2 separate regions of the Homo sapiens genome follow, and region 1 is reported to be linked to region 2. The links are microRNA targets in miRTarBase. Many come from high-throughput screens and were not tested one by one. Region 2 holds a microRNA gene; the other region holds the end of a gene's coding sequence.
The links. Region 2 holds the annotated microRNA hsa-miR-4758-3p (UGCCCCACCUGCUGACCACCCUC, at 2,331-2,353, opposite strand). A microRNA usually pairs through its seed, bases 2 to 8, with sites in the 3' UTR of a target mRNA and lowers its output. Matches are read on the target gene's strand: a 7mer-m8 pairs with bases 2 to 8, a 7mer-A1 pairs with bases 2 to 7 and ends in A, and an 8mer does both.

Region 1: miRTarBase lists TNFAIP8L1 as a target of hsa-miR-4758-3p. Seed matches in the 3' UTR shown: 7mer-A1 at 1,158-1,164.

The regions. Positions count from the first base shown.
Region 1 is chr19:4,651,864-4,656,373 of GRCh38, forward strand. TNFAIP8L1 (TNF alpha induced protein 8 like 1) reads left to right here. Exons shown (of 2, transcript NM_152362.3): 2 at 4-3,705. The coding sequence starts at 7. The coding sequence ends at 567. Among named protein-coding and RNA genes, the nearest start is that of TNFAIP8L1, 15 kb to the left of the region's middle. RefSeq lists a silencer at 2,869-2,918.
Region 2 is chr20:62,330,160-62,334,159 of GRCh38, forward strand. It overlaps MIR4758 (microRNA 4758), which reads right to left and starts at 2,398; the gene lies at 2,328-2,398. LAMA5 (laminin subunit alpha 5) reads right to left here. Exons shown (of 80, transcript NM_005560.6): 23 at 3,742-3,880; 24 at 3,405-3,547; 25 at 3,216-3,322; 26 at 2,931-3,084; 27 at 2,398-2,558; 28 at 2,213-2,321; 29 at 873-970; 30 at 584-785; 31 at 329-455.

The sequences.
Region 1 (4,510 bases), not on the chromosome of region 2:
CAGGCCATGGACACCTTCAGCACCAAGAGCCTGGCTCTGCAGGCGCAGAAGAAGCTCCTGAGTAAGATGGCGTCCAAGGCAGTGGTGGCCGTGCTGGTGGATGACACCAGCAGTGAGGTGCTGGATGAGCTGTACCGCGCCACCAGGGAGTTCACGCGCAGCCGCAAGGAGGCCCAGAAGATGCTCAAGAACCTGGTCAAGGTGGCCCTGAAGCTGGGACTGCTGCTGCGTGGGGACCAGCTGGGCGGTGAGGAGCTGGCGCTGCTGCGGCGCTTCCGCCACCGGGCGCGCTGCCTGGCCATGACGGCCGTCAGCTTCCACCAGGTGGACTTCACCTTCGACCGGCGCGTGCTGGCCGCCGGGCTGCTCGAGTGCCGCGACCTGCTGCACCAGGCCGTGGGTCCCCACCTGACCGCCAAGTCCCACGGCCGCATCAACCACGTGTTCGGCCACCTAGCCGACTGCGACTTCCTGGCTGCGCTCTACGGCCCCGCCGAGCCCTACCGCTCCCACCTGCGCAGGATCTGCGAGGGCCTGGGCCGGATGCTGGACGAGGGCAGCCTCTGAACCCCGGCGCCGCCCAACCGCGCCCCTCGCGCCTTTTGGGGCTCTCCTGCTGGGCGCGGGTGGGGTTTGTGGGTTTTTTTCCACCTCTTTTCTCCCAATCGGACTCCGGCCAAACTCCCCTAGACAGATGGGTGACCTGTCTCCTTTGAGAGGATGCTGAGGCATCTGTAGCAGCTGTTTCAAACACCAATGTCACCTCTCCTCCTGGCCCCCGCCCAATGGGGAGAGGAATTTGGGGCCCTACTCTGGGGACCACCTTTCACCCGTTTGTACTTTCTGGGCCACGCCGACCCCTGGGTCGCTTGATGTAAAAGCCAAAAGCTGCTGCCTCCCACTTGGATCATGTCGCCTGGGATTTTCATCCCTCGCACAAGGACTACGGGTTCACACGGTGAACTGGGGGAAGGGAAGTGTTAGGGGGCAAGTCGCGGCACCCCCCCTTCCATAAACTCACGTCCTAACCCCCAGGACCTCAGAAGATGATCTGATTTGGAAATAGGATCATTACAGATGGAATTAGTTCAGATGATCTCATCTTGGAGTAGGGTGGGCCCCAATTCAAGGACTGGGGTCCTTAAAAAAAGGGGGCCTGGGGCAGGGCGCGGTGGCTCACGCCTGTAATCCCAGCACTTTGAGAGGCTGAGGCGGGCGGATCACGAGGTCAGGAGATCGAGACCATCCTGGCTAACACGGTGAAACCCCATCTCTACTGAAAATACAAAAAATTAGCTGGGCATGGTGGCACATGCCTGTAGTCCCAGCTACTCGGGAGGCTGAGGCAGGATAATCACTTGAACCAGGAGGAGGAGGTTGCAGTGAGCCGAGATTGTGCCACTGCACTCCAGCCTGGGTGACAGAGCAAGACTCTGTCTCAAAAAAAGAAGCGGGGGAGTGGGGGATTGAGGCCACGTGCAGTGGCTCACTACTCTAATTCCAGCACTTTGGGAGGCCGAGGCAGGAAGATTGCTTGAACTCAGAAGTTCAAGACCAGTCTGGGCAACATGGTGAGACCCTCGTCTCTACAAAAAAAAAATTATCGTGGTGGGCCGGGCGTGGTGGCTCACACCTGTAATCCCAGCACTTTGGGAGGCTGAGGCGGGCAGATCACAAGGTCAAGAGATCGAGACCATCCTGGCCAACATGGTGAAACCCCGTCTCTACTAAAAATACAAAAATTAGCCGGGCATGGTGTTGCGTGCCTGTAGTCCCAGCTACTTGGGAGGCTGAGGCAGGAGAATCGCTTGAACCTGGGAGGCGCAGGTTGCAGGGAGGCGGAGGTTGCAGTGAGCCGAGATTGCACCACTGCACTTCAGCCTGGTGACAGAGCGAGACTCGTCTCAAAAAAAAAAAAAAAAAAAAAAAAAAAAGTGACTGTGGTGGTGCACACGTATAATCCCAGCTACTTGAGAGATGACGAGGGAAGATCACTTGAGCCCAGGAGTTAAGAGGCTGCAGTGACCGATGATCATGCCACTGCACTCCAGCTTGGGTGAGAGTGGGACTCTGTCTTAGAAAGAAAAAAAAAAGTATTTGGACACAGACATGCATGCAAGGAAGGCCAATGATGCCGGCCACCACCAGGAGCTGGGAGAGGCCCAGGGCAGATCCCCTTCAGCCTTGGAGGGACCTAGCCCTGGCCACACCTTCATCTCAGACTTGCGGCCCAGAGAACTGAATGAGAATAAATGTGCGTGAAGCCCCTCAGTCCACAGGATGTGGTACTGGAAGCCCCCACTCAAGAAGGCTCCAGTGAATGCTGGCACGTTCAGCCAGGATGCCTCCGTGAAGCTGGAGACCTCTGCCCTGGGTCGGGAGGGGAAACTGCTCCAATCCAGGGACTGCCACATGGGAGGGGACGGAGCGTGCCCACCTCCCAGGGGTGAGGGGGGACCCACCTGAGATGTGTGCACATTTTATTTATTTATTGTTTTGAGACAAAGTCTCGCTGTGTCACCCAGGCTGGAGTGCAGTGGTGAAATCTCGGCTCATTGCAGCCCCTTCCTTCCAGGCTCAAGTGATCCTCCCACCTCAGCCCCGGGTAGCTGGGACTACAGGTGTGCACGAGCACACCCGGCTAATCTTTGTATTTTTTGTAGACAGAAGGTCTCACCATGTTGCCCAGGATGGTCTCGAACTCCTGGGCTCAAGCGACCTACCTACCTCGGCCTCACAAAGTGTGCACATTGTAATATCGTGATTTCATATTTGGAGAATCAGCAACCAACCAGCCAACCATGTTGCTTTTATAAGACAGAGCTGAGAAAGCAAAGCTTGGCTGTCGTCTTGGCTCTGGTACCACCCACGAGATGCGGGCGATTCTCAGCTCAGGGCGTGGAGGCGTGGTGTGGGGGAGTCTATTTGCCATTTTTGTTTGTCAGCAGGGGGCAGGGGTTCTCAAAGATTGCAAAATGCTGCTGCAGGTCAGGAAGGTTATTTTGGGTGCCTGTGGGGGAGGTGAAACAAGGTCCCATGACTGTTTTGCAGAACCTTGTCTGTGGAGGGTAGAGGTTGCGGCAGGGGCCTGTGGGCCTTACTTGGTGAGAAGGTAGGTCTAGCTGGCTCCATTCAGTATTTGAGACATTTGGAATTTGTCTGCATTTAAAACCAAGAGATCACACACACCTGTCTGGATTTGGAGTTTCTCTTGAAAACTCGCCAGTCCGGCCGTCTGAGCCTGCACTGACGCCTGGTGAAGCTGTGCAGGGGCCGCCCCTCTCCCTTTCACCACAGTCCTCTCCACTCCCTTTCGCCTCTCCCTGGCCTGCTGCACTCACTGATAGGAAATTCTGACCCCAGACTCGGAGCAGCCTTCCCGTGGTTCGGTTTTTGCTTCCGCGAAAAAGCCAAAGGCCTTGGCCAGAGAGCCAGCTGTTCCTACCTCTACCCCACGCTTCCAAGGCAACCTTCTCCACTTATCTTAGGCCGAGAGACAGCTCTTCAAGAACGTACATGGATCCTGATTTTCTCACGAAGTCCCGATGGAACCCTGTGCTGTTGAGACATCAGTGTGTAAAACTCTCTGTGTCCCTGTTGGGCTGTCCAGACAGTCTGGACTCTTGTAAATTTGAGATTTAATTAAAGGAAACAAACCAAATAGGACTGCGGAACAATTTAAATAAAAGCACACACCAGCCTGGGCGCAGTGGCTCATGTCAGTTAAACCTAGTGCTTTGGGAGGCCGAGGCAGGAGGATCACTTGAGCCAAGGAGTTCAAGACCACCCTGGGCAACATAGCGAGACCCTATCTCTAAAAATATATATATATAAGGCCAAGTGCAGTGGCTCACGCCTGTCATCCCAGCACTTTGGGAGGCTGAGGCAGGCAGATCACCTGAGGTCAGGAGTTCAAGACCAGCCTGGCCAAGATGGTGAGACCCCATCTGTACTAAAAAGTACAAAAATTAGCTGGGCATGGCGGCGGGTGCCTGTAATCCCAGCTACTTGGGAGGCTGAGGCAGGAGAATCACTTGAACCTGGGAGGCGGAGGTTGCAGTGAGATGAGATCGTGCCACTGCATTCCAGCCTGGGCAACAGAGTGAGACTTGGTCTCAGAAACAGAATAAAAAAATAAAAAATTATAGCCAGTCAGGGTGGCATGCACATGTGGTCCCAGCTATCTGGAAGGATGGCTTGGACCCAGGAGGTTGAGGCTGCGGTGAGCCGAGATCGCACCACTGCACTCCAGCCTGGGTGATGGAGCAAGATCCTGTCCAAAAAAAAAAAAAAAAAGCACACATATGCACACGTAAGGTCAGAGGGGAAGCTCCTGTGTGTCCCGAGATGCCCTGATGTATGCTGGTGCATCAGGCCACCCGGGCATCATCCTTGATGACAGCCAGGGATCCAGAAGCTGTGGGCGAATCCCAGCTGACCAGGAGAGAGTCCCCCTACCTTGGCCAGGGTACTGGTGGTAGGCACTGTTTCCCACGGCCTTTTCTGCACA
Region 2 (4,000 bases):
AGGCTTGGCCGAGCCAGGAACCAGACAAACACACAGGGCCACATGTGCTGCCAGCGGCATCCTGGGGCAAGCCCTCAATTCGCCACGTGCCATGGAGCACAACGGGGCTTCCCAACGCACGAGACAGAGGCGAGACCCAGGCTTTTCTGGGAACGGGAGCGGGCGGGTAGGGGCTGCGGGCTGCAAGGGCAGCTAGTTTGAGAACTGATGGCAGGACAGAGTCATGTTGCCTGTCGCTCATAGCAGGTAGCACAGGCCACGCTGTGGCGCCGGCATTCCAGCCTCATCGTGTGTGGTAGCCTCTCCACCCCCCACACCAGACACTCACCCTGCCACACGCGGCCGGCGTTGATGAGGACTTCCACGGGGAAGGTGGGGTGGGCTGGCTGGTAGCCGTGCAGCAGGAAGGCATAGCGGCCCAGCGTGGGCACATGGGTGGTGAAGACCACGGTGGCCTGCAGGGATAGGCCCTAGTGAGCAGGCTGAGCTATGAGCCCCTGCTGCCCCCTGGACAACCTGCCCTGGGTTGGGACCCGGAGTCCTGCCCTGACACCCCCGTCCCTCTAGAGACTATGGCCCTCACCTGGGGCTCACGCAGCAGGGTGGGCTCTGCATCAGGGTCCACAGCGGTGGGGGGCCGAGGTCGGGGTCCAGCTGGGGACATGGCTGGAGTGAGATCCTGCGCGTGGGTCAGCGGGAGGCCGGGCGGCAGCGGGATCACCTGGCAGTCCCTGAGGATGATGGGCTGGGGCGGCTTTGGGAAGCGCGAGGGCAGACAGGCGGCACTGGTGAGAGCACAGTGGGTGAGTCAGAGCCGGCCCTGCCGCCGGGCCCTCGGCCGCGCCCCTCCCAGCCCCATTACCTGCCATTACCTGTTGGGGCCAAAGGCGCCGTGGCTGCTGATGCAGCTGACCCGGGGCTCCACGAACTCCGGGCTGAACTCCTCAATGGGCACCAGAGTGACCCCGTGCTGCAGGCAGAGGGACGAGATGCTGCAACGCCCGTGGTGCGGGGAGGATAGGGGGTGCAGGCGGTACGATGGGGGGGTGCAGGCGGTACGATGGGGGGGTGCAGGCGGTACGATGGGGAGTGCAGGCGGTACGATGGGGGGGGTGCAGGCGGTACGATGGGGGGGTGTAGGCGGTACGATGGGGGGTGCAGGCGGTACGATGGGGGGGCCGGTCACACAGCTCAGACCCAGGAAACTGCAAACCCAGGCGTCCGACCGAGCCCTGCTCTTTCCAAGATGCCCTTGCTCCTCCTCCAGCTGCACAAACCCCAACCGCAGACCAGCGTGTTGGCCAGTTCCTGGGCCCACAGGCCTATGCGGCTCCTCCCATAGCCCTCTTCCTCCCCCTCGCCCTCCCATCCGTCACTGTTCCCCCACTCTTATCTCGAGTGCTGCTTGGTGCCACCAGGCCGGGCCAGGCCCAGCTCTCCCAGGACCTGACCCAGGCAGGCACTCAGCAGGCACAAGCCGCAAATGGGTGCTCCCTTTCCGTGCGGCCATGTGAGGTTGGTGTCTCGGAACACGGCAACTTATCCGCTGACACAACGGTGGGAGACGCGGCTGCACAGAACATGTTGTGTGGCATTTATAGAAAGTGCCAGGCCAGGTATGGTGGCTCCTGTCTGTAATCCCAGCATTTTGGGAGGCCCAAGAGGGCGGATCACCTGAGGTCAGGAGTTTGAGAATAGCCTGGCCAATATGGTGAAACCCTGTCTCTCCTAAAAATACGAAAATTAGCCAGGCGTGGTGGTGAGTGCCTATAGTCTCAGGTACTTGGGAGACTGAGGCACGAGAATCGCTTGAACCCAGGAGGTGGAGGTTGCAGTGAGCCAAGATCTTGCCATTGCGCTCCAGCCTGGGCGACAGAGTGAGACTCCATTTCAAAAAAAAAAAAAAAGAAAAGAAAGTTCCAGAACAGGCAACCAACGCTGTCTGTGCCAGGAGGTGGCTGCCCTGGGGCCAGGGAGCTGTGACTGCAGGTGCTTTCCTGAGCACATGGAACAGCTCGGGGGTACGTCAAAAGGGACTGAATCCACAAAACGCTTGCAGGAGGGGTTCCAGAAGAAACATGCTGGGCTGGGCATGAGCGAGTGTGGCCGCCTTGGGGACCTGGGACCCCAACTGTCCTCTCCCCTCTCATGCATGTTTCAAATCTTCTGAAAGAAGCTGACCCCTTGGGGTGGGGACCTGAGGGGTCCTTACCAGGAAGAAGCGTGCCTGTTCGGCTGTGAGCCTCACGCTGGCCTCCGAGTCCAGGTGGAAGACAGCCAGGTGGTCCTGGGTATCCCGGGCAGTGCCCCGGCACAGGGTGCTGTGGGGGGAGGGTGGTCAGCAGGTGGGGCAGCCCCGGGCGTGCCCTTACTCCAGCCCCACCGGCTCCCACTCACCTGTACAGGCAGGGGTGCAGGGAGAGCAGCCCCTGCTGGGGGGCCCGCTGTGGGGTGTGCACGGCCACGCCCACCTCCTGGCGGGCATCCTCATTGGCGTACTCCACCACTAGGGCATAGCGGCCTGGCTGTGGCACTGCCACTTGAAGCTGGACGTCCACCTGCAGGGAAGGCAGGGTGACGGGAGGCCCGCCACCCCTCGCCCTTCCCACCTCCCTCCCCTCCCACTCCAGCGCCTCCCTGACCCCAGGGCCTGCCCTTCAGCCGAGTCCCACCCTGGCCCGGACATCTCCAGGCAAGTGGTGGGGGCTGAGCTGTATGTGGAGGCCACAGCCAATCCTACATACAGACAGGCACTGAGGTCACACATGCAGGAGGCAGGAGGCAGGAGGCAGGGGCGCCCTGCCTGGGTGCTGGGCTCCATTGCCTGAGGCAGCGCCCTGCTCCTATAACCTGCCACCGCCACAGGACCCCCAGCCCCCAGGCCAAGGTCCTGCAACACCCATTGCTCCGTGGGGTCCCAGGACACGCACATCACTGCCCGTGCAGGTGATCAGTGGCGGGTGCGACGGGCTGAGCTGCTCCGTGGGGCAGGGCCGGGGCAGGCTGTTGTCCTGGCGACACAGGGCCTCCAGCCCGGCGGCCGAGGGGAAGCCATCCAGGGGGAGGTGTGTGTAGAGGAGGCAGCTGGGGGGACACAGGCCGTGGTCAGCCCCAGGTCCACCCAGGTCCCCAGAGACAGCCTGAGTGGGGGAAGCCAGGCACAGTGGGGGTCCAGGAAGCCCCCACCCCGGTCCCACCGCACGCATGGCCCTCACTTGTCGCCAGACTGCTGGGCAGAGGGACGGTATGTGCAGGCCTCAGTCACCCGCAGCTGCAGGAGCGCCGCCTCGTAGTATGCGCTAGGCAGCAGAACCACGTAGTCCTGCAGGGTGGAGGTGGTGCTGAGAGTGGTGGGCCCCACCCCCTGACCCGGCCCCCAGCCCTCACTCTGGCCCCTGCCTCACCAGGAGCACCCCTTCGGCCTCCACACGCAGGGCCCAGGTGCCAGGGTTCAGCACAAAGGGCTCTCCGAAGCCCCTCTGGGGCACGGTGATGAAGGCAGGCTCCGTGCTGGGTGGGAAGGCCACGGGCTGACTCTGTGCTGTGCCTGGGCGGGGGCAGGGGTGAGACTCCTGAGCCCAGCCCTTGGGGCCACCCCAGGCTGCACCCCCTACAGGGTTGGGGATAGGCTGGTCCTACCACCCACATGAGCCAGAGGAAGGTGGCGGGGCTTGGGAGTGGGGTGGGGTGGGGTGGGCTGGGCTGGTGGGGCAGGGGCTGTGGCCCAGGGACCCCACTCACAGTTGGCGCAGGTGGCCGACCTGCCCTCCTCTCGCACAGAGACCCGCCCGCTCACACTCATGGCCCCCCGGTTGACGTATCGGAAGACGAGCCAGAAAAGGTCAGGGGAGGTCAGGTTCAGCCTGGCCACGATCCTGGGCTGGGTGGGCATGGAGCGTCGGGTCACTCTCCCTGACCACTGCCAGCCTGAGGCCTGGGCCTTCAAGGGGCCTGCCCACCCCTCCCTGCCAGCCACGCCTGGCTCCACTTCTAGGCTGAG